Linked DNA regions of Homo sapiens: all the other regions are linked to region 2. The links come from fine-mapping of genetic effects on gene expression. A gene starts in region 2. Each other region holds a variant in brackets. All regions are shown on one strand. Distances are from middle to middle.

Region 1 (8,362 bases), 140 kb before region 2:
GGGTAGCAGGCGCCCACCACCATGCCCAGCTAAATTTTTTGTATTTTTAGTAGAGATGGGGTTTCACCATGTTGGCCAGGCTTGTCTCGAACTCCTGCCCTCAGGTGATCCACCCACCTCAGCCTTACAAAGTGCTGGGATTACCTGCGTGAGCCACCGGGTCCGGCCTCTTTATGTCTTACTGTACTGTCTGTCTTGAAAAGTACTTATTATTTTTGATTGGTTCATCATTTAGTCTAATTAAAATAAGAGTAGTTTACACACCACAATTACAGTATTATAATACTCTGTTTTTCTGTGTGCTTACTATTACCAGTGAGTTTTGTACCTTTAGATGATTTCTTCTTGCTCATTAATATCCTTTTTTTTTTCAGATTGAAAAACTCCCTTTAGCATTTCTTGTGGGATATAGGTCTGGTGTTGATGAAATCTCGCAGCTTTTGTTTGTCTGGGAAGGTCTTTATTTCTCCTTCCTGTTGGAAGGATATTTTTGCCAGATACGTTATTCTAGGCTAAAAGTTTTTTTTCCTTCAGCACTTTAAATATGTCATGCCACTCCCCCCTGGCCTGTAAGGTTTCCACTGGAAAGGTGGCTGCCCCATGTCATGTATTGGAGCTCTACTGCATGTTATTTGTTTCTTTTCTCTTGCTGCTTTTAGGATCCTTTCTTTATCCTTGACCTTTCGGAGTTTAATTATCAGATGCCTTGAGGTCGTCTTCTTTGGGTTAAATCTGCTTGGTGTTCTATAAACTTCTTGTACAAAAAATCAGCCAGGCATGGTGGTGGGCACCTGTAATCCCAGCTACTTGGGAGGCTGAGGCAGGAGAATCGCTTGAACCCTGGAGGTGGAGGTTGCAGTGAGCCGAGATCGCATCATTGCACTCCCACCTGGGCGACAGAGCAAAACTCCGTCTCAAAAAAAAAATTATTTGGGCTCGGTGGTGCCTGTAGTCCCAGCTACTTGGGAGGCAGGAGGTCCACTTGATGTTGAGATTGCAGTGAGCCATGATCCTGCCACTGCACTCCGGCCCGGGCAACAGAGTGAGACCCTGTCTAAAGAAAAAATAAAAATAAAAAAGCAACATATCCTAAATAAAGGATCCTCCATAATGTTTCCACCAGATTTCTAATCAGAAACATGGAGGCCAGGAAGCAGTGGAGAATGACGACCCTCAGGCAGCCCTGGAGGATGCTGTCACAGGCTGGGGCAACGGCCTTCAGGCTACCAACTGGGAGCTCTGGGAACAGCCCTGTTGCAAACAGGAAGTCATGGCCCGGCCAGAGCCCAGAATGTGGGCTGAGCTGGGATCCATGTGACAGCTTTGAGGCTCACCGGGAGCAGCCTCTGGACAGGAGAGGTCCCATCCAGGAAACCTCGGGCATGGCTGGGAAGTGGGGTACTTGGTGCCGGGTCTGTATGTGTGTGTGACTGGTGTGTGTGAGAGAGAATGTGTGCCCTGAGTGTCAGTGTGAGTCTGTGTATGTGTGAATATTGTCTTTGTGTGGGTGATTTTCTGCATGTGTAATCGTGTCCCTGCAAGTGTGAACAAGTGGACAAGTGTCTGGGAGTGGACAAGAGATCTGTGCACCATCAGGTGTGTGCATAGCGTCTGTGCATGTCAAGAGTGCAAGGTGAAGTGAAGGGACCAGGCCCATGATGCCACTCATCATCAGGAGCTCTAAGGCCCCAGGTAAGTGCCAGTGACAGATAAGGGTGCTGAAGGTCACTCTGGAGTGGGCAGGTGGGGGTAGGGAAAGGGCAAGGTCATGTTCTGGAGGAGGGGTTGTGACTACATTAGGGTGTATGAGCCTAGCTGGGAGGTGGATGGCCGGGTCCACTGAGACCCTGGTTATCCCAGAAGCCTGTGTGGGCTTGGGGAGCTTGGAGTGGGGAGAGGGGGTGACTTCTCCGACCAGGCCTTTCTACCACCCTACCCTGGGTAAGGGCCTGGAGCAGGAAGCAGCGGCAAGGACCTCTGGAGCAGCCCATACCTGCCCTGGCCTGACTCTGCCACTGGCAGCACAGTCAACACAGCAGGTTCACTCACAGCAGAGGGCGAAGGCCATCATCAGCTCCCTTTATAAGGGAAGGGTCACGCGCTCGGTGTGCCGAGAGTGTCCTGCCTGGTCCTCTGTGCCTGGTGGGGTGGGGGTGCCAGGTGTGTCCAGAGGAGCCCAGTTGGTAGTGAGGCAGCCATGGGGCTAGAAGCACTGGTGCCCCTGGCCATGATAGTGGCCATCTTCCTGCTCCTGGTGGACCTGATGCACCGGCACCAACGCTGGGCTGCACGCTACCCGCCAGGTCCCCTGCCACTGCCCGGGCTGGGCAACCTTGCTGCATGTGGACTTCCAGAACACACCATACTGCTTCGACCAGGTGAGGGAGGAGGTCCTGGAGGGCGGCAGAGGTCCTGAGGATGCCCCACCACCAGCAAACATGGGTGGTGGGTTAAACCACAGGCTGGATCAGAAGCCAGGCTGAGAAGGGGAAGCAGGTTTGGGGGACGTCCTGGGGAAGGACATTTATACATGGCATGAAGGACTGGATTTTCCAAAGGCCAAGGAAGAGTAGGGCAAGGGCCTGGAGGTGGAGCTGGACTTGGCAGTGGGCATGCAAGCCCATTGGGCAACATATGTTATGGAGTACAAAGTCCCTTCTGCTGACACCAGAAGGAAAGGCCTTGGGAATGGAAGATGAGTTAGTCCTGAGTGCCGTTTAAATCACGAAATCGAGGATGAAGGGGGTGCAGTGACCCGGTTCAAACCTTTTGCACTGTGGGTCCTCGGGCCTCACTGCTCACCGGCATGGACCATCATCTGGGAATGGGATGCTAACTGGGGCCTCTCGGCAATTTTGGTGACTCTTGCAAGGTCATACCTGGGTGACGCATCCAAACTGAGTTCCTCCATCACAGAAGGTGTGACCCCCACCCCCGCCCCACGATCAGGAGGCTGGGTCTCCTCCTTCCACCTGCTCACTCCTGGTAGCCCCGGGGGTCGTCCAAGGTTCAAATAGGACTAGGACCTGTAGTCTGGGGTGATCCTGGCTTGACAAGAGGCCCTGACCCTCCCTCTGCAGTTGCGGCGCCGCTTCGGGGACGTGTTCAGCCTGCAGCTGGCCTGGACGCCGGTGGTCGTGCTCAATGGGCTGGCGGCCGTGCGCGAGGCGATGGTGACCCGCGGCGAGGACACGGCCGACCGCCCGCCTGCGCCCATCTACCAGGTCCTGGGCTTCGGGCCGCGTTCCCAAGGCAAGCGGCGGTGGGGGACAGAGACCGCGTTTCCGTGGGCCCCGGGTGGACAGTGACCGTAGCCCAAGCAGCGCCGACAGGGCGTGGGGTCCTGGACGTGAAACAGAGATAAAGGCCAGCGAGTGGGCTGAGGACAGTGGGCCAGGAAACCACCTGCACGGGGGAGGTGCGAGTCTGTGGGCTGGGAGGGGGCGGGGCTACTGCCCAGACCCGCCAGAAGCCCGGTGGGCGAGGCTGATGCGTCGAAGTGGCGGTGGCGGGGACCGCGCCTATGCTGCGGGCTCAGTGTGGGCGGGACGGGCGGGATCTTCCTTGAGTGGAAAGGTGGTCAGGGTGGGCAGAGACGAGGTGGGGCCAAACCCCGCCCCAGGCAGGGGAGCAATGTGGGTGAGCAAAGAGTGGGCCCTGTGCCCAGCTGGACCGGGCTAGGGACTGCGGGAGACCTTGTGGAGCGCCAGGGTTGGAGTGGGTGGCGGAGGGTGGGGCCAAGGCCTTCATGGCAACGCCCACGTGCCCGTCCCGCCCCCAGGGGTGATCCTGTCGCGCTATGGGCCCGCGTGGCGCGAGCAGAGGCGCTTCTCCGTGTCCACCTTGCGCAACTTGGGCCTGGGCAAGAAGTCGCTGGAGCAGTGGGTGACCGAGGAGGCCGCCTGCCTTTGTGCCGCCTTCGCCGACCAAGCCGGTGGGTGATGGGCAGAAGGGCACAAAGCGGGAACTGGGAAGGCGGGGGACGGAGAAGGCAACCCCTTACCCGCATCTCCCACCCCCAGGACGCCCCTTTCGCCCCAACGGCCTCTTGGACAAAGCCGTGAGCAACGTGATCGCCTCCCTCACCTGCGGGCGCCGCTTCGAGTACGACGACCCTCGCTTCCTCAGGCTGCTGGACCTAGCTCAGGAGGGACTGAAGGAGGAGTCGGGCTT[C/T]CTGCGCGAGGTGCGGAGCGAGAGACCGAGGAGTCTCTGCAGGGCGAGCTCCTGAGAGGTGCCGGGGCTGGACTGGGGCCTCCGAAGGGCAGGATTTGCATAGATGGGTTTGGGAAAGGACATTCCAGGAGACCCCACTGTAAGAAGGGCCTGGAGGAGGAGGGGACATCTCAGACATGGTCGTGGGAGAGGTGTGCCCGGGTCAGGGGGCACCAGGAGAGGCCAAGGACTCTGTACCCCCGTCCACGTTGGAGATTTCGATTTTAGGTTTCTCCTCTGGGCAAGGAGAGAGAGGGTGGAGGCTGGCACTTGGGGAGGGACTTGGTGAGGTCAGTGGTAAGGACAGGCAGGCCCTGGGTCTTCCTGGAGATGGCTGGGGCCTGAGACTGGTCCAGGTGAACGCAGAGCACAGGAGGGATTGAGACCCCGTTCTGTCTGGTGTAGGTGCTGAATGCTGTCCCCGTCCTCCCGCACATCCCAGCGCTGGCTGGCAAGGTCCTACGCTTCCAAAAGGCTTTCCTGACCCAGCTGGATGAGCTGCTAACTGAGCACAGGATGACCTGGGACCCAGCCCAGCCACCCCGAGACCTGACTGAGGCCTTCCTGGCAAAGAAGGAGAAGGTGAGAGTGGCTGCCACGGTGGGGGGCAAGGGTGGTGGGTTGAACGTCCCAGGAGGAATGAGGGGAGGCTGGGCAAAAGGTTGGACCAGTGCATCACCCGGCGAGCCGCATCTGGGCTGACAGGTGCAGAATTGGAGGTCATTTGGGGGCTACCCCGTTCTATCCCCTGAGTATCCTCTCGGCCCTGCTCAGGCCAAGGGGAGCCCTGAGAGCAGCTTCAATGATGAGAACCTGCGCATAGTGGTGGGTAACCTGTTCCTTGCCGGGATGGTGACCACCTCGACCACGCTGGCCTGGGGCCTCCTGCTCATGATCCTACACCTGGATGTGCAGCGTGAGCCCAGCTGGGGCCCAAGGCAGGGACTGAGGGAGGAAGGGTACAGCTGGGGGCCCCTGGGCTTAGCTGGGACACCCGGGGCTTCCAGCACAGGCGTGGCCAGGCTCCTGTAAGCCTAACTTCCTCCAACACAGGAGGAAGGAGAGTGTCCCCTGGGTGCTGACCCATTGTGGGGACGCATGTCTGTCCAGTCCGTGTCCAACAGGAGATCGACGACGTGATAGGGCAGGTGCGGCGACCAGAGATGGGTGACCAGGCTCACATGCCCTGCACCACTGCCGTGATTCACGAGGTGCAGCACTTTGGGGACATCGTCCCCCTGGGTGTGACCCATATGACATCCCGTGACATCGAAGTACAGGGCTTCCGCATCCCTAAGGTAGGCCTGGCGCCCTCCTCACCCCAGCTCAGCACCAGCCCCTGGTGATAGCCCCAGCATGGCTACTGCCAGGTGGGCCCACTCTAGGAACCCTGGCCACCTAGTCCTCAATGCCACCACACTGACTGTCCCCGCTTGGATGGGGGGTCCAGAGTATAGGCAGGGCTGGCCTGTCCATCCAGAGCCCCCGTCTAGTGGGGAAGACAAATCAGGACCTGCCAGAATGTTGGAGGACCCAGCGCCTGCAGGGAGAGGGGGCAGTGTGGGTGCCTCTGAGAGGTGTGACTGCGCCCTGCTGTGGGGTCGGAGAGGGTACTGTGGAGCTTCTCGGGCGCAGGACTAGTTGACAGAGTCCAGCTGTGTGCCAGGCAGTGTGTGTCCCCCGTGTGTTTGGTGGCAGGGGTCCCAGCATCCTAGAGTCCAGTCCCCACTCTCACCCTGCATCTCCTGCCCAGGGAACGACACTCATCACCAACCTGTCATCGGTGCTGAAGGATGAGGCCGTCTGGAAGAAGCCCTTCCGCTTCCACCCCGAACACTTCCTGGATGCCCAGGGCCACTTTGTGAAGCCGGAGGCCTTCCTGCCTTTCTCAGCAGGTGCCTGTGGGGAGCCCGGCTCCCTGTCCCCTTCCGTGGAGTCTTGCAGGGGTATCACCCAGGAGCCAGGCTCACTGACGCCCCTCCCCTCCCCACAGGCCGCCGTGCATGCCTCGGGGAGCCCCTGGCCCGCATGGAGCTCTTCCTCTTCTTCACCTCCCTGCTGCAGCACTTCAGCTTCTCCGTGGCCGCCGGACAGCCCCGGCCCAGCCACTCTCGTGTCGTCAGCTTTCTGGTGACCCCATCCCCCTACGAGCTTTGTGCTGTGCCCCGCTAGAATGGGGTACCTAGTCCCCAGCCTGCTCCCTAGCCAGAGGCTCTAATGTACAATAAAGCAATGTGGTAGTTCCAACTTGGGTCCCCTGCTCACGCCCTCGTTGGGATCATCCTCCTCAGGGCAACCCCACCCCTGCCTCATTCCTGCTTACCCCACCGCCTGGCCGCATTTGAGACGGGTACGTTGAGGCTGAGCAGATGTCAGTTACCCTTGCCCATAATCCCATGTCCCCCACTGACCCAACTCTGACTGCCCAGATTGGTGACAAGGACTACATTGTCCTGGCATGTGGGGAAGGGGCCAGAATGGGCTGACTAGAGGTGTCAGTCAGCCCTGGATGTGGTGGAGAGGGCAGGACTCAGCCTGGAGGCCCATATTTCAGGCCTAACTCAGCCCACCCCACATCAGGGACAGCAGTCCTGCCAGCACCATCACAACAGTCACCTCCCTTCATATATGACACCCCAAAATGGAAGACAAATCATGTCAGGGAGCTATATGCCAGGGCTACCTCCCAGGGCTCAGTCGGCAGGTGCCAGAACATTCCCTGGGAAGGCCCCAGGAAAACCCAGGACCGAGCCACCGCCCTCAGCCTGTCACCTTGTGTCCAAAATTGGTGGGTTCTTGGTCTCACTGACTTCAAGAATGAAGCCGTGGACCCTCACGGTGAGTGTTACAGTTCTTAAAGATGGTGTGTTCAGAGTTTGTTCCTTCTGATGTTAAGACGTGTTCAGAGTTTCTTCCTTCTGGTGGGTGCGTGGTCTTGCTGGCTTCAGGAGTGAAGCTGCAGACCTTCACAGTGAGTGTTACGGCTCTTAAGGCTGCACGTACGGAGTTGTTCATTCTTCCTGGTGGGTTTGTGGTCTCACTGGCCTCAGGAGTGAAACTGCAGTCCTTCCAGTGTTACAACTCATAAAGGCAGTGTGGACCCAATGAGGGAGCAGCAGCAGCAAGACTTACTGCAAACAGCAAAAGAATGATGGCAACCAGGTTGCCGCTGCTACTTCAGGCAGCCTGCTTTTATTCCCTTATCTGACCCCCACCCACATCCTGCTGATTGGCCCATTTTACAGACAGTGGATTGGTCCACTTACAGAGAGCTGATTGGTGCATTTACAATCCCTGAGCTAGACACAGAGTACTGATTGGTATATTTACAAACCTTGAGCTAGACACAGAGTGCTGAATGGTGTATTTACAATCCCTTAGCTAGACATAAAGGTTGTCCCAGTCCCCACTAGATTAGCTAGATAGAGTAGACAGAGAGCACTGATTGGTGCGTTTACAAACCTTGAGTTAGACACAGGGTGCTGACTGGTGTGTTTACAAACCTTGAGCTAGACACAGAGTGCTGATTGGTGTATTTACAATCTTTTAGCTAGAAATAAAGGTTCCCCAAGTCCCCACCAGATTAGCTAGATAGAGTGCTAATTGGTGCATGCACGAACCCGGAGCTAGACACAGAGTGCTGATTGGTGCATATACAATCCTCTGGCTAGACATAAAAGTTCTCCAAGTCCCCACCTGACTCAGGAGCCCAGCCAGCTTCGCCTAGTGGATCCTATGCCAGGGCCACAGGCAGAGCTGCCTGCTAGTCCCACACCGGGCACCTGTACTCCTCAGCCCTTGGGCAGTGGACGGGACCAGGTGCCGTGGAGCAGTGGGAGGCACCCATCCGGGAGGCTCGGGCCTCGCAGGGAGCCCACCGTAGGGAGGCTTGGGCATGGCAGGCTGCAAGTCCTGAGCCCTGCCCCGCGGGGAGGTGACTGAGGCCTGGCGACAATTCAAGTGTGGTGAGCGCCGGCAGGCCAGCAGTACTGGGGGACCCGGTGCCCCCTCTGCAGCTGCTGGCCCAGGTGCTAAGCCCCTCACTGCCTGGGGCCAGAGGCACCAGCCGGCCGCTCCGAGTGCAGGGCCCGCTGAGCCCCTGCCCACCCAGAACTGGTGCTGGCCCGCGAGCAACCCAGGTTCCCGCACA
Region 2 (8,362 bases):
ATGCATAGTTTTTTCGCAACCCATATTTTCCATGATCTTTTTGAAGACTCCTCATAGAATCAATCTTCTCCTGCTCAAGTTTTTTTAGTTTCTTTTTTTTAATAACATCTTTTATTTGTATACAAAGTACAAACTTGCTTTATTCGGATTTTTCTTTTTTTAAAAAAAATTTATTTTTAGTCAACTTACTCCCTTTTATTTATCAGCAGTTTGCTCTGACAGAATAAATTACAAACTGTTGTTTCGATTAATCCTTTTAATCACCATGTCAGGCACACAGGTTGGAGGATATTAGCTCCCATTTTACAAAAAGTGGAAACACTGTACCCACATTTAGTGTAAGACAGAGCTAGGATATAAGCCTTGGGCTTCCATAGTCACAACTGCTTTTTTCCATAACTTTGTAATACATCATTTTTAAGCAATCTGATTTCACAATGTTTTACAGTATAAGAGTAACATCTATAGCATCTCTTCTTGGCAGGTTACCCCTCTGGAGAGAACCAATGTAATTACCTCATAAGCTGGCACTTTTTTTTTTTTTTTGAGATGGAGTTTCACTCTTGTTGCCCAGGCTGGAGTGCAATGGCGTGATCTCTGTTCACTGTAACCTCTGCCTCCTTGGGTTCAAGCGATTCTCCTGCCTCAGTCTCCCAAGCAGCTGGGATTACAGGCATGTGCCACCATGCCTGGCTATAGTTTCTTTTTTTTCTTTTCTTAAATTTTATTCTGTGAGATGAGGTCCCACTATTTTGCTCAGCGTGGTCTTGAACTCCTGGCCTCAAGTGATCCTCCCACCTTAGCCTCTCGAATAGGTGGGACTACAGATGTGCACCACTATCTCTGGTTCTTTAAAGTAGTTTCTATCCAGGAAGCTAGGGTACTAATAGGATCTTCTTTGGTGAGAAGAAAACAGAGAAAGAGTCCTTTTCTTTCTAGAGGGACAGCTGGAGTACAGGAGTTTATGCACAGTACCTAAGTTCAAATCCAAATCCAAGCTCTCCCACATGCGCTTTAAGCAAATGACTTCTTTTTGTTTTCCCACCTGTGAAATGAGGGAAAACAGTACTGATCTTCACTGTAGATAGACTGAGTTTTTTTACTTTGTTTTGTTTTGAGACAGAGCCTCACCCTGTTACCCAGGCTGGAGTGTAGTGTCATGATCTCAGCTCACTACAACCTCCCCTCTGCCTCCCAGGCTCAAGCAATTCTCGTGCCTCAGCCTCCTGAGTCGCTGGGATTACAGACGTGCACCACCATGCCTGGCTAATTTTTGTATTTTTAGTAGGGACAGGGGTTTCACCATGTTGGCCAGGCTGGTCTTGAACTCCTGATCTCATGTAATCCACTGGCCTTGGCCTCCCAAAGTGCTGGGATTACAGGCGTGAGCCACCACGCCTGGCTGGTAAAGTGGTTTTAACTACAGTATAAAGCTCTTAGAACTAAGAACAGTACTTGAAATAGTGTTCGATAAATGCTATTAAGTATTCAGGAGCACAAAATGGATCCCATAAAGGTAATTCAAAGGACCACAAAAATCAGTGTTTCTGTGTTTTGTTTTTTAAAACATGCTTCCTTCCCTTTCTCCAACACACAAGCAGTGAAGTAGAGAGACACCCATAGCCCGAGTGAGAAGACACCCAAACACCAAATTAGAAATGACTTCACAATCAGCCCCGGAGTCAAAGCCGATTCTCGGACCAGTCCCATCCCACAGCAGCCTGCCTCCTCTTTCGACATCACAGAGGCTGCTGTGTCCTTCGCCAAGGACTCCCTGGCAGGTGGAGTGGCCGCAGCCATCTCCAAGATGGCGGTAGCACCCATCGAGCGGGTCAAGCTGCTGCTACAGGTGCAGCATGCCAGCAAGCAGATCACTGCAGATAAGCAATACAAGGGCATTAGAGACTGCATGGTCTGTATTCCCAAGGAGCACGGAGTCCTGTCCTGGTGCGGTAACCTGGCCAGTGTCATCAGATACTTCCCCCACCCAGGCTCTTAACTTCACCTTCAAAGATAAATACAAGCAGATCTTCCTGGATGGTGTGGACAAGAGATCCCAGTTTTGGCGCTACTTTGCAGGGAATCTGGCATCAGGCGGTGCCACTGGGGCCACATCCTTGTGTTTTGTGTACCCTCTTGATTTTGCCCATACTCGTGTAGCAGCTGATGTGGGCAAAGCTGGAGCTGAAAGGGAATTGCGAGGTTTCGGTGACTGCCTAGTTAAGATCTACAAATCTGACGGGATTAAGAGCCTGTACCAAGGCTTTAACGTGTCTGTGCAGGGTATTATCTACCGAGCTGCCTGCTGCCTACTTCGGTAACTATGACACTGCAAAGGGAATGCTTCCGGATCCCAAGAACACTCACATTGTCATCAGTTGGATGATGCACAGACTGTCACTGCCGTTGCTGGGTTGACTTCCTATTCATTTAACACCATTTGCTGCTACATGATGATGCAGTCAGGATGCAAAGGAACTGACATCATGTACACAGGCACATTTGACTGCTGGAGGAAGATTACTCATGATGAAGGAAGCAAAGCTGTTTTCAAGGGTGCATGGTCCAGTGTTCTCAGAGGCATGGGTGGTGCTTTTGTGCTTGTCTTGTATGATGAAACCAAGAAGTACATGTAAGTTATTTCCTAAGATTTTTCCCCCTTTGAACAGGCATGTTGTATTATATGACATATCTTGAGCATTCTTTTTTTTTGAGACGGAGTCTCCCTCTATTGCCCAGGGTGGAGTGCAGTGGCACAATCTCGGCTCACTGCAACCTCCACCTTTTGGTGGAGCAATTCTCCTGCCTCAACCTTTTGGTTCACCTTTTGGGTGATTCACCTTTTGGGTTCAAGCAATTCTCCTGCCTCAACCTCCTGAGTAGCTGGGACTACAGACATCCGCCACCACTCCCGGCTGTTTTTTTTTTTTTTGTATTTTTAGTAGAGATGGGGTTTCAACATATTGGCCAGGCTGCTCCTGAACTCCCGATCTTGTGATCCACCCACCTGGGCCTCCCAAAGTGCTGGGATTACAGGCGTGGGCCACCGCGCCCGGCTATCTTGAGCATTCTTGACAGACTCCTCGCTGTCAATTTATCAGTGGCAACTATTCACTGGTTGGAAATGGGAAGCAATAATAGTCATCTGACCAGTTTTCTCTTAAAGCCATTTCTATGATGATGATGATGATGGGACTCAATTATGTTTTTTATTTCAGTCACTCCTAATAAATAACAAATTTGGAGAAATAAAAATATCTTAAGAAAAGAAAAAAGAAAAGAAAAGAAAGGCTTCACACCATGGAATGACAAGTGCTCAAATGGCTCTCAGTAAGTGCTCACGGGGACACCACTGTCAGAGTGGTGAGCAATCATCTACCACAAAATGGAACAAAGCAGCAGAGGTACGTAGGAAGCAGGTGAGAACATACAACCTCTAAGGCCCATATAAATCTGTCAAGAAAACTTTCTGGAGGAAGGAAAGATAGAAGAAAGACCTGGATATCAGCATTTGGTAACGTCTACTTCGATCTTCCTGACAACTACATTCAAACTGACCTGAGTGTGCTGGCCCCAAGCACATCATCCAGCTTGAGTTTCAATGCTGGTTGGGAGAAAAGGAAATTGAGGGCAAGTCAGAGCCCAGAAAGGAGCGCAATTTAGAACTGCACAGCGGGGGAGACTGAGTTTGAGTGTAGGAAACGGGAAAGGGGGCGTGTGGGGTAAAGAGGTGAGCGCAGTGGAGTCAGGCCTTAGTGAACAAGTGTGCTTGAAGGTGGAGATGGGCACCCCTCTGGCTGAGTCTGCTCCAGTAGAGAGCTCAGGGGCCAGCAGCAGGCACCGCAAGGAGCAAAGCAACTGGTGTAAGCCCCACAGCTTCCTGCGACCAACAGTGCTTTGTTGTGCCCAGGCATCTGTTCAGTCCCATCTTTTATTTTAAGACAGGATCTGGCTCTGTTACCCAGGCTGGAGTGCAGTGGTACAATCTGAGCTCACTGCAGCCCAAACTCCTGGGTTCAAGCAATCCTCTTACCATCGCCTCCCAAGCAGCTGGGATTATGGGTGCACACCACCATGGCCCACTAATTTTCTACTTTTTGTAGAGATGGGGTCTCACTATGTTGCCCAGTCTTGTCTCAAACTCCTGGGCCACCTCAGCTTCCCAAACTGTTGGGATAAGAGGCATGAGCCACTGCACCTGGCCTCAATTTTTTCAATTTTGTTTTTAAAAGCAGACATCTCCCTGGTTGGAGCAAGGAGGAAACATGGCTTTAGAAAGTTTCCAGGTCCAAGGAGAAGCCCCACAACAGTTTGAGATCTTTCCAGAATGATCCACACTCGACCTCCTCATCCCTCTTACCAAAGAGCGACACCTTGTTCGTGGAAGTAGGAGGAGATACACACCCAGTACCTGTCCTCATCCAACAAAGTCGCAGGCACCCAAGGGCAGCCACGCTGCCACCGAAGGCCCCCGGCTGCTCACAACCGCCGGTCAGCTCCGGCCTCTCTTCGAAGGACACACGCGTCTCGCACCCCCTCCCCGCCCCGCCCTGAGGAGACATGCGTCTGGGCCCCGCGCCTTGAAAAGGCGCATTCCCACCCCCACCCCTCAAACGCGCGAGGCCACGCGTTCCGGCCTCCGCCACCTCCACATGCCGGAACACCAGTGAGGGGCGCGCGCTCCCAAAGGTCGGGGGCGGAGCTAAGAGCGCCGCGCCCAAAAAAGGCGGCAAAGTCCCTGACTCGCTGAGAGTTTGCGAGCCGCCATGTCTATCTCATTCGTCTCCTCTCCTCCGACAGCACGCCGTGCTTCCCCTCAGGCACCTTTCACCGTTAGGGATGAGGGCTCCGCGGCGGTTCTCGGTGTGGCTCTGATTCACCGCCATCTTGCTTCGGGCCTCCTGCCGCCCCGTAGATGGAAAGGGGCGGGACCTGCGCCGAGCTGTGGGGCGCGGTTCTGAAGGGGAGGGCGGAGATTATGACGTAAGGAGGAGGAGGAGGAGGAGCGAGACCGGGTCACGTGGTGGGGCAGTGCCCGGGGAGCGGGGCGGAGTCAGGGTAGAGGCCCCCGCCGAGAAAGGGGAGAAAGAGGCGGGCCCTGAGAATTGGCTCGAGCGCGAAGGGGTGAGTGATAGGTGAGTGGCCTCCCGACCTCACCTGCCCCCTTAGCCCCCTGCCTTTAGGTATGGACTTGGGTTGGTCCTGTCAGGAATGATCTCAGCTCACTGCACCTCCAACCTCCCATGCTCAAGCCATCTTCCCACCTCAACCTCCCATCCATTACTCACTTTGGTTATGAAACACTAGAAAATAATGACTGAGGCCCGACCTGACGCCAACTGAAGATGAACTGACCTCACAAAGTGTTTTCATCTCTAATATCTGTGGCTATTTCTTACCAAGAGAGTCTCACCCTCCACACATGGGTGAGATGACATAATGGCTGATTTGGTCAAGGAGCACAAATAAGACAGGCCAGGCAGTTACTGTTCAAACAGCAATGTTTAGTTGTACAACACATAAAGTCTAGCAACAATTACAGGACCAGTTTGAGTGTCTGTTTGCTTGTTTTCAATTGGGAAATTTAACTGTAATGTCACCGTAAGATTGGCTGGGACTGGTAACATTTAAGAAACGGGTTGTTCTTGCATCCCCTAGGCGTGGGCCTCTTGCTCCATCAGGACTTGGTTGTAGATGAATGGCCCACAAGTCACCAGCCTTTGAGCAAGTTGTGTCCAGGTGGAGACAGGAAGAGGGTGGGCAAAGGGGAATTCTATAAAGACACAGTGTGTGGGGCAGTGGCAGTCAACATTCGCAAACATTCATGCATCTGATGGGGGGCTTTGCCCTCCCTTGGGTATTTTCCATTAGCCTACAGTGACCACCTGTGGTCAGGCTAATTCATTACTCACATTAATGGGGAAGGGGGTTGGGGGTAGGAGTAGGTAGGGTAGGTGGGAAGAGATCCCTCTTATTGCTGAGTGGACAGAAGGGTGCTAGTTTTTCCTTAGCGTGTACATATTGTGGGTTTCTGGGGGTTTGTGTGTGTGTTTAGTTTTTGTTTGTTTGTTTGGACAGAAGAAAGTCAACTCCAGCAATGTCTTCTTAGGAAAACCACTCTTCCTCAGTGGCTGCGTTATGAGGTGGGGAGGATGTACAACCGCACTCTGGGACAGCCACAAGTGGTGATTTTTTAAAAAGTGATCCTAGCCCTTGCTCCCCAACATCTGTAGTGACCCACCCTCATGAATATCTTTAAGTAATGAAGGAGACACCCTTGTCCCACTTTGGGGCTCACACAGCTGATCTCAATGAATCTAGTAAGCAGAAAAATTGCTTTCTTGACCCTTTAAGGAAGCCAAGAGTAGCTCATGCAGATGAATGGGTAGGGAGCAATGCCATTGCCCTTAGAGATGGTTACAAGTAGCTGGGATGGGCTTACAAGGGCAGAAGGAGCTCTTGATGAGTTCTTTCACCCTGCAGATGGGCTAGGACCGGCTGACGCAGATGATGCAGTAGGGCTGTACTGGCAGAACCCCACTCCACTGGGAGGAGAGGAGTGGTTTGGATAAATGGAGGATGCAACTGGCCTAAAGAGGCAGCTGGCCCCTCCCACCTACTGAGGGCTGAGAGGGGCTGTGGTGGTGAGCTGGACGAGCACAGCACTAAAAAGGGCTTGGCCCTGCAGCAATAACAGCTGAGAGGAATGGAGTGAGAAGCAGCGCTTGAAATGGCCTTCATTCAGCAGTGGGGCAGGGGGTGGCTGGCACAGGTGGAAGGACAGTGCCCAGGAGGCCTTCTCCCTGCAGGGGGGTTGAGAACGGTTGAGGGTGTGGAGACCAGCAGCTGGCAGCAGACATATAAAATACCTTCTCCAGGGAGGCTCAGATCATGGTTCAGGGGTGCCAGGCACCATTCCTACTCAGCCTTTCCAACGCCCACCTCCCATGCCCATAGATCTTCCCCTGCTGGTCCAAGGTCTCCATACAGGACTGCTTCTACAGTAGCCAAGGATCCCTGTTCTGTTGAAATGTATAACCTCTGGGCTGTAGCGCTGCTGCTGTTCTGTCCTGACAGGTGCCTACCCTGTAACTTTGTGAGCAAGGGAGGATGAGGGCTGGGTTGGCAGCCTCCAGGAAAGACCGAGAGCATAGGTTGGGGTCACTGGTGACCTGATCACCGCCCCCCTTTCTCCTGGTCCATTGAATCTTGGGTCTTGAGTCTATGTTTTTTTTCCTAGCACCTGAGTGATAAAAGACTGGGATTATAAGTGCTGGGATTCATAGAGGACCAGTGAAACACCTAGGCTGAACCAGGAGATGGGACAGAAGGTTGTATGAGGTTATTGTAAACAGTTTCACTTAGTGTTTTCCCTTCCCTAAGGCTAAACTGTTTCCCTGGCCCCGAATTTCATGAATCTTACAGATTAAAGGAAAAGAGTAACTTACTTGTACAACAAGCAGGGGAAATATATGCATTAATAAATACAGGGCTTCAGGGAAAGGCAAGAAAAGCCTAAATGTATGACGGTGGGTATCATTGGGAATGTCTACAGGAGTCAGGAGGAGAGGGAATTAGGGAAAAGTAGAGAAAGACAGACATAAATATGATTAGCTTCAGCACAAAAGTGATGGGGAATAGAAAAGAGAGGTCAAGTATGTATGAAGCAAATGGAGCAACAGAGAAGCCTGCTTAGAAGGGAGAGAAGTCTGACGGAGAAAACGGAGGTGTGGTCAAAAATTTGTCTTTGAAGCCAAATTACTAAGAAAGACAAATTATGTATATTGTTTCTGATACTTCTTTAGAATTAGTTCTAGAACCTGATGTCCCAATAAAAGGTTGTCTCACATGACTAGCATGTGTGCTTCCTTTAACTGGACACTGGGAACTGCATAACTCACTGTGTTTCCCTCTTTACATTGGCTGCCTGTGAGCTCAGGGCCTGTTCAGGTGCTTGACTACAGAAACTTTCTTTCCTATTCCTTTCTTTGACCCAGATTTCTCTGGCAATCTGTTTGTACTGTCCTGTAGTTTTGTGATTTTATGTGAAAGGCAGTCTAAAGTCATTTCTGGAAGTAGACTGGGCATAAATGCTAAATATAGGAATGAACCTAAAGTAGATTCATCTAAAAGGAAGTGAGAGATGTCAGAGACACGCAGGAGAGGGAGAGAAAGCAATGTATGAGGGAAGGAGGGAAAGGGAGAAAGAAGACAAAGTCGGAAGCAGAGACAGGCAGTGGCCTGGCAGCAGAGGCCAGTTGAGTGGAGAGCAGCAGTAGGCTCTGGTGACAGGTGGTAGCTTTGTGACACTGAACACGACACAGACTGAAGGGTGGAGCTCCATTTGTAGGCACTGATGCTT
Region 3 (8,362 bases), 34 kb before region 2:
TTTCAGGACACAAAATCAACATATAAAACTCCATAGCATCTCTATATACCAAAGATGAACTATCTGAAAGGGAAATTAAGAATGCAACCTCATTTACTTTAGCAACAAAAATTTTAAAATACTTAGGAATTTACGGGACTCAGCAAAATAACTGACACAAATAAATGGAATAAAAACACAAATAAGTGGAAAGACATCTCATGTTCACAGATTGGAAGAATTAATATCGTCTAAGTGTCCATACTACCTAAAGCAATCTACAGATTCAATGCAATCCCTATCAAAATCCCAATTGCACTTTTTATAAAAATAGAAAAAAAAAATCCTAAAATTCATATGGAACTACAAAAAACCCTGAATAGCCAAAGCAATTTTGAACGAGAACAAAAAGCTGGAGACATCACACTTCCTGACTACAAATTATCTATCTTACAAAGCTATCACCAAAATAGTATGGTGCTGGCATAAAAACAGACACAGACAAAATGGAACAGAACAGAGAACCCAGAAATAAACTCACATATTAATGAACAACTTACTTTGACAAGGGTGCTAAGAACACACAATCGGGAAAGGATAATCTGTTCAATAAACAGTACTGGAAAAACTGGGTATCTACACACACACACACACACACACACACACACACACACAAATGAAATCTGACCCCATCTCATACTACACAACAATCAACTCAAATAGACAAAAGGCTCAAATGTAAAACTTGAAACTGCAAAATTCCTCGAAGAAAACATTGGGAAAACCTTGACATTGGTCTTGTAATAATTTTCTCAATATGACACCAAAAGCACAGGCAATGAAAGAAAAAATAGACAAGTGGGATTACATCAAACTAAAAAGCTTCTGCAGAGCAGAAGAAATAATCCAAAAAATGAAAAGGCAACCTACAGAATGGGAAAATAATGTTTGGAAACTATATAGCTGATAAGGGATTAATATCCAAAATATATAAGGAACTCATACAACTCAATGCTAAAAATACAAATAACTGGATTAAAAAATGGGCCAAGAACCAAAATAGACACTTCTCAAAAAAGGAAATTCAGATGGCCAATAAGCATATGAAAATGTGTTCAACATTTGTAATCATCAGGTAAATGCAGATCAAAACCATAATGAGATATCACTTCACACCTTTTAGGCTATTATCAAAAAGATAAAAGATAACAAATGTTGTCAAGGATGTGGAGAAAAGAGAACCCTTGTACACTGCTGTTAGGAATATACATTCATACAGCCATTATGGAAAAAGTATGAAGGTTCCCAAAAAATTAAAAATAGAACACATGGCCGGGCACGGTGGCTCACGCCCGTAATCCCAGCACTTTGGGAGGCCGAGGCGGGGAGATCACAAGGCCAAGAGATCAAGACCATCCTGGCTAACATGCTGAAACCCCATCTCTACTAAAAGTAAAAAAAATTAGCCGGGCATGGTGGCAGATGCCTGTGGTCCCAGCTGCTCGGGAGGCTGAGGCAGGAGAATGGTGTGAACCCAGGAGGCAGAGCTTGCAGTGAGCCCAGATCACGCCACTGCACTCCAACCTGGGCGACAGAGCGAGACTTGGTCTCAAAGAAAAAAAAAAATAGAACATATGATCAAACAATCCTATAGGATAGTAAAGGGATATCTGTACTCCCATTGTTCACTGTAGCATTTTGCACGACAGTCAAGATATGGAAACAACCTAAATGTCCTTCAGTGATGAACAGATAAAGAAAATGTGATTATACACACATACAAAACAGACTATTATTCAGCCTTTAAAAAAGAAAATCCTGCCATTTGTAACAAAATGAATGAAGCTGGAGGAAGTTATGTTAAACAAAATAGGCAAGACACAGAAAGAGAAATACTGCATGATCTCCCTTTTATGTAGAATCTAAAATAGTCAAACTATAGAAACAGAAAGTAGGATGGTGGTTGCCAGGGGCTGGGAAGAGGGGGAAATGGAGGATGTTGGTCAAAGGGTATAAAAATGGTAACTATATACAGGTAATAGATATGTTAATTAGTTGGAATGTGATGGTCATTTCACAATGTTTCACAAAAACATTCAGTTGTATACATTAAATATATATAATTTTTGTATGTCATAAATATTAAATTATTGCAAAATAATTTAAGAGACAAAAAAGTGATTCACCAACTGTGTTTAATAGCTACATATTAATGATGGCAGCAGCAGGCCATCTGGAGCAGCTGCTGCCATCACGCTGGCTGCAGCAACTAGGCATGGCCAGGGCTGCATGCTCCATGGAGAAGGCAAAAGCCAGGGACAAGCGCGAGACCCGCCCCTTCCAAGTTGGGGTGAGAGCTTCCTGGATGCTGCTGCAGCCGCCCAAGCCGTGGCTGCAGACCCAGGCATCCCTGTGCTCTCAGGGCCCAGAGGGGCAGGTGGGAGCTCCACCCTCCCAGGCACAGCTCCAGCTGCCCAAACCGTGGCTGCAGACCCAGGCATCCTTGCACTCTTGGGGGCCCAGGAAGGCCCCCCTTGTTGCGGGAAGTCAGGGACCCCAAACGGAGGGACCGGCTGAAGTCATGACAGAAGAATGTGGATTGTGAAGATTTTATGGACATTTATTAGTTCCCCAAATTAATACTTTTGTAATTTCTTATGCCTGTCTTTACTGCAGTCTCTAAACATAAATTGTAAAGATTTAATGGACACTTATCACTTCCCCAGTAAATATCCTTGTGATTTCCTATGCCTGTCTTTGCTTTAATCTCTTAATCCTGTCAGCTGAGAAGGATGTGTATCGTCTCAGGACCCTGTAATAATTGCGTTAACTACACAAATTGTACAGCATATGTGTTTGAGCAATATGAAATGTGGGCACCCTGAAAAAAGAACAGGATAACAGCAATTGTTCAGGGAATAAGAGAGATAACCTTAAACTCTGACCACCGGTGAGCCGGGCAGAACAGAGCCATATTTCTCTTCTTTCAAAAGCAAATGGGAGAAATATCACTGAATTCCTTTCTCAGCATGGAAAGTCCCTGAGAAAGAGAATGCGCACCTAGGGGTAGGTCTCTGAACTGGCCCCCCCGGGGCGTACCTGTCTCTTATGGTCGAGATTGCAGAGGTGAAATAAACTCCAGTCTCCCATAGCGCTCCCAGGCTTATTAGGAAGAGGAAATTCCCGCCTAATAAACTTTGGTCAGACCGGGTGATCTCAAAACCCTGTCTCCTGATAAGATGTTATCAATGACAATGGTGCCTGAAACTTCATTAGCAATGTGATCTCACCCTGCCTCCACTTGCCTTGTGATATTCTATTACCCTGTTAAGTACTTGATGTCTGTCACCCACACCTATTCGCACACTCCCTCCCCTTTTGAAAATCCCTAATAAAAACTTGCTGGTTTTTGTGGCTTGTGGGGCATCACAGATCCTACCAACGTGTGATGTCTCCCCCGGATGCCCAGCTTTAAAATTTCTCTCTTTTGTACTCTGTCCTTTTATTTCTCAAGTCAGCCGACGCTTAGGAAAATAGAAAAGAACCTACGTGATTATTGGGGCAGGTCCCCCGATACCCCCTTGCCCTTGCAGGCATGGAAATGCCTGTTCCTACTGCCTAGCTTCTCCCTGCCTTCTCTGATCTCAGAGCAAAGTTGGGCAGTGCTGACACACCAGCCCCCTGCCGCCCTGGCCCCCTCCAGATTTTGGGCACAATGAGCATAGAAGGAAACTGAGGGGAGCTGAGGGCAGCTTGGCTTGGCACCTACAGCCTGGGTACCATCAACGGAAGGAGGCAGACAGGTTCCTGGGTAGAAGGGGATGGGTCCCTGGTGACGTCACACCTTCAGGCCAGGGAGGGCTTGAAAGCTGGGGGCCAGGATGCCAGTCCCATGGACTGGAGTGAGAACTTGTGATGGCTTTTCTGGGCCTGCCCATGGCCACATATGGACCAATCGATATGTACTTCTTCCCCTCTGAGGCCCATAAAATCCCTGGGCTCAGCCAGAGCTAAGCAGATGTTGGGACGACCAGCTGCAGAGAGGAGCTACCCATTCCAGGACCCCTCTCTGTTGAGAGCAGCAGACATCAGCACAATGAGCTGCAGTGAAGAGCTACCCACTCCAGGGCCTCCTCTCTGCTGAGAGCCACAGAGATGACAGGAAGACCTGCCTGCAGATAGGAGCTACCCACTCCAAGGCCTCCTCTGAGCTATTGTCACTCAATAGCTCCTGTTTGTCTTGCTCACCCTCCACTTGTCTGTGTACCTCATTCTCATTGCTCACCCTCTACTTGTCTGTGCACCTCATTGAAGAACTTTGGACCCACTAAATGAGGCTAAAAGACCTGTAACACAAACAGGGTTGAGACATGCCCCTTGCTCAACATGTTGTGGGCAAAGAGAAGAAAAGAAGAGCTGCAGCCCTTTGGGAAGCCCAGACCTGGGAGCTCTCCAAGCCAGGGCTGTGACTCCCTCTTTGGGGCCCTATGGTTCCTGGCATCTCCAAGCTTCTGGGCACCACCTTTTCCCTGGTGCCAGCTGTGGAAGCTGCTTGGAGTGCGACTGGTCCAGCTGCAGCCTCGTGGAGAGCTGGTGCCCATGCTGGTACCTGGAGCTGACCACCCCACTGCAGCAGCTGGCACATCTGACTGAAAAATAGCCAGACCCCACACTTCCCCACACACCCCTTGTCACTCCATGCAATCTCCCTTGGCAGGCATGGGATCCAGGCCAGTAGCATGAGCCAAGTGCAGCCTGTCAGGCCGGGTGGGTGGAATGAGCCCAGTGGGCCCAAGCAATACTTGGGCAGAGGTGCCACTTGTCCACAGAGGTTTCTGGCCAGAAAAGTGACACCCCAAAGATACCATAATATTAATAATTAATACCCTGTTTTATTATTTATAATAAATTCTAATTACTAAAAATTACAAGTTTCTTATATTGGCTACTAAATCATACATCTAAACTAATCAAACTGCTGGTCACATCTGTATAGACCCTTTCCCTTTGACAGAACCCCTTCTTTCTAATCCATTTAGGAAGCTTCAAAGAAAGTTTATTCTCTAGCAGTCCATGGTTGTCTGCCCCACCCTCTTCAGGCTCCAGAAGACTCTCAAGGCAAAGGCCAGGAAGAATATC[A/G]TACGTTTCACTTCCTACCTGACAATGAGGTAATCTGTGTAACAGAATAAATTTTTACATTATTAATTTGAATTGGGCTTCTACATTTTATATATATACATACATGATTTTCAAGCAAGCAACCAAGTGCTAGGCAAGGAAAGCCAAGTCAACATGAAGGCAAAGGCTTTCTATTACCTTTTGGGTAAACCCAAATCCTGAGATTTGGATTAGGATAGATGCTTAAGAGATAGAGGTGATGCAGACCAACAGCACAGCTGAGAGGGCAGAATCTGGAAGTTTAAGGAATTGTCAGACTCTCAAGGATAAGGAGGCCTTTGGGGTCCTACTCCCCAGTTCTAAGGAGCAATATGGTACACAGAGTTGGATCTCTGACACCCTGGTTCTAAGCCCTACCTAAGATTCTGGGGTCCCAAGGCAACAAGCTTTTAGACTTGACGGGACTGCCAGGACTGGATAGTGGCTGTTTCAGAAGCAGTCTGATGACCAGAAGAAACTTCTCAGCATCTTGGTGCCAAATAAAATCTGGATACCTTTGCATAATCTTAGGATTTGTGAGAAGCCCACCAACAAAGCAGATGGTGGTGGGGATCTTGGTAACAGAAATAAATTTACAGAAAACAAAGACATGCAATATTTCTTGAACATATTAATCTATGGATTGAAAAATCGGCCAGGCACAGGCCGATGCCTGTAATCCCAGCACTTTGGGAGGCCGAGGCGGGTGGATCACTTGAGGTCAGGAGTTCGAAACCAGCCTGGCCAACATGGTGAAACCCTGTCTCCACTAAAAACACAAAAATTAGCCGAGCATGGTGGCAGGCACCTGTCATCCAAGCTATTCAGGAGGCTGAAGCAGGAGAATCGCTTAAACCTGTGGGGCAAAGGTTGCAGTGAGCCGAGATCGCGCCACTGCACTCCAGCCTGGGGGACAGAGCCAGATTCTATCTTGAAAAAAAAAAAAACAAAAAGAGGAAAATCACACCAACTATATGTTTTTGTCCTGATATCTCAGGGTAGCTGAGCCAGGAAGGTTCTGCTCCAGCAGGCTGGGGAGCATCCACTTACCCATGAAAAGGAGTATTTGGAGGCTCATTTTAGGGGCCAATACCAGATAGTCCAGGACTAAAAGGTCTTCTTATTTCTATCCCTTTATATTTCTAATAGGAAATGAAAGAGTAGACAACAGAGTATAGTTTCTGTATTGCAGCTGGGGAAGAGACAGGAAGAGCGGAATCCACCAGCACAGTGAGTGAGTCAGAAAGAAAGTACTCAAAACGTCAGTGAGGAGCTGAGGAACTCAGCACATGAGTGCTCTCAGCATGCAGAAGGCTCAGCTGAATTCTGACTGGATTTGTCCTCAGCAAAGCAAAAACCAGGGTCCTTTGAATATACAGGACACAAAGCTCTTCTTATAGAACAAATTGGACTGAGCCTTTGGGGGAAACAACTGTACCAGACAGTGGGAGCTAACTAACAGTAGGTGTGCCACGCAGCACCACGTGGGTCCAAACTGTGGCTCCACTTGGTTCTATCCTTACACAGTCACAGCCTTTGGTTGTACTGGGGCAGTTTGGTGGACCAGGTAAACAGGTACCCTTTGCACAGGAGAACATGGTGGAATTCCACCTTTAAGAAACTCGAACCTGCTACGCTTTTCAGGTAACTGGACCCCACCTCAAATCTACCTGGTACAAGTATAACTAACATGAAGAGCAGAAGAGAAGTCTAGTTTGTATTCTTTTAGAATTCTAATCCCCAAATATTTGCCAGAGATCAGTTACTCGGAAAACTTTCTGATATAAAAAAGGCCTCACCCATTCACCCTGTTCTCAACTTACCATCACATTCCAGCAGACACTGAAAAGCTGAACAAGGGAAACCTTATCCCTGCTCTAGTTGGTTGAGTCTCTCCTCTCTTCCTCTCATCACTGTTGCCCACGTACTGTAGTTTGGAAGTAAGAAAAGAAGAAACTTAAAATATCTCGTTATTTTCCTCCAAAAATTTTAGGGATAAAAGCGCCAGATCCTATGACCCATGTTTAAGATCCAATATTGCCTGGATTCCCTGTTTGGAAACTTTAGAGAGGTTTACAGCCACACTTTCCCTTTTCACTTCTTCCCTTCATGCCAGTTGCCTGGGCAAAGTGGCTGTCCCTGTGTTTTGACATTCCAGCTTCCTAGACCCATAACTCTATCCCAGTAATTTCTGAGAGGAAGCAGCAGCTACTTTCTATATATTTTATCTTCAAGATGTCCCACCCTGCTTTCTGTAAATTGGATATAAAGCTCTTTTATTTGGAATGGAAGGAAGAATGGTCTTTTGACTTGTCTTCATTTTTGGAAAGAGCTTTAAGGTCTAGCATACTCCAGATACCTGAAGTCCATTCTAATTCTAATATCCCATAATTCCAGAAAGTGTTTCTCAGTTTCTTCCACTGAACAAAATGTTTACTGAATATTCTAAAATCAAATAATTTTGAAAAAACTGTAAATTTTGAAAATCTCTCCTTCTTGGAGATTATGTCCATTAGTATAGTCAAGGCTCTAAGAAGTAGTAAAGAAACCAGTTTTCTTGTCTTTTTCAATTATATTTAACCCAGTTACTCCATTTCACATAAAACCCATTAATATCTACCTGACTTCCTTAAGAAAGGCTGTCCTTGAGAACATGGGAGCATCTGGTTTCCTAATTTTCACAATGCAGATCAATCAATGACTCTAAGCTGTGTTAAGGAAAGCATTTAAAACTTTTAAAAAGCTCCATATACAAAGAAGTTAATCATGAAGTTGTAATAACAAAAACCTGGAAACAATTCAAATACCTTAAAAGAGGGACTGAGAAAATACGTTATGGTGTAACTGTGTCACAGAATATTATGTGGTCACTAACAATATTTACAAGCATTTCTTCAAAACCTATGAAAATGTAAAATATCTGGTGAAACATTATATAGCATGATTTCAACTACATATAAGAAATATGCATAGAAGGCCAGGCGCAGTGGCTCATGCCTGTAATCCCAGCACTTCAGGAGGCTGAGACAGGAGGATTGCTTGAGGCCAGGAGTTCAAGACCAGCATGGCCAACATGGCCAGACCCCATCTCTATAAAAATAAAAAAAATTAGCTGGGCATGGTTTTACCTGCCTGTAATCCCAGCTACTCAGGAGGTTGAGGCACGAGAATTGCCTGAACCTGGGAGGTGGAGGTTGCAGTGAGCCAAGATTGTGCCACTGCACTC

The links. PIP is the estimated chance that this variant, and not a neighbour inherited with it, causes the effect.
Region 1: its variant is fine-mapped to the expression of WBP2NL in ovary (GTEx, PIP above 0.99).
Region 3: its variant is fine-mapped to the expression of WBP2NL in whole blood (TOPMed, PIP above 0.99). The same link has a PIP of 0.9 or more in blood mononuclear cells.

The regions. Positions count from the first base shown.
Region 1 is chr22:42,138,300-42,146,661 of GRCh38, reverse strand. It overlaps LOC105377203 (a long non-coding RNA gene), which reads left to right. Exons shown (of 3, transcript XR_938280.2): 3 at 1,124-1,210. It also overlaps the pseudogene CYP2D7. Among named protein-coding and RNA genes, the nearest start is that of CYP2D6, 12 kb to the right of the region's middle. The variant C/T (reference allele first, on the strand shown) is at 4,174.
Region 2 is chr22:41,995,343-42,003,704 of GRCh38, reverse strand. It overlaps WBP2NL (WBP2 N-terminal like), which reads right to left and starts at 4,917. Exons shown (of 6, transcript NM_152613.3): 1 at 4,825-4,917. The coding sequence starts at 4,886. It overlaps SEPTIN3 (septin 3), which reads right to left. Exons shown (of 12, transcript NM_001363845.2): 12 at 5,484-6,803. The coding sequence ends at 6,738. It also overlaps the pseudogene SLC25A5P1. RefSeq lists enhancers at 1,802-3,001, 4,336-4,850, 4,851-5,367 and a silencer at 4,965-5,024.
Region 3 is chr22:42,029,421-42,037,782 of GRCh38, reverse strand. It overlaps a transcript of WBP2NL not described here. Among named protein-coding and RNA genes, the nearest start is that of WBP2NL, 35 kb to the right of the region's middle. The variant A/G (reference allele first, on the strand shown) is at 5,119.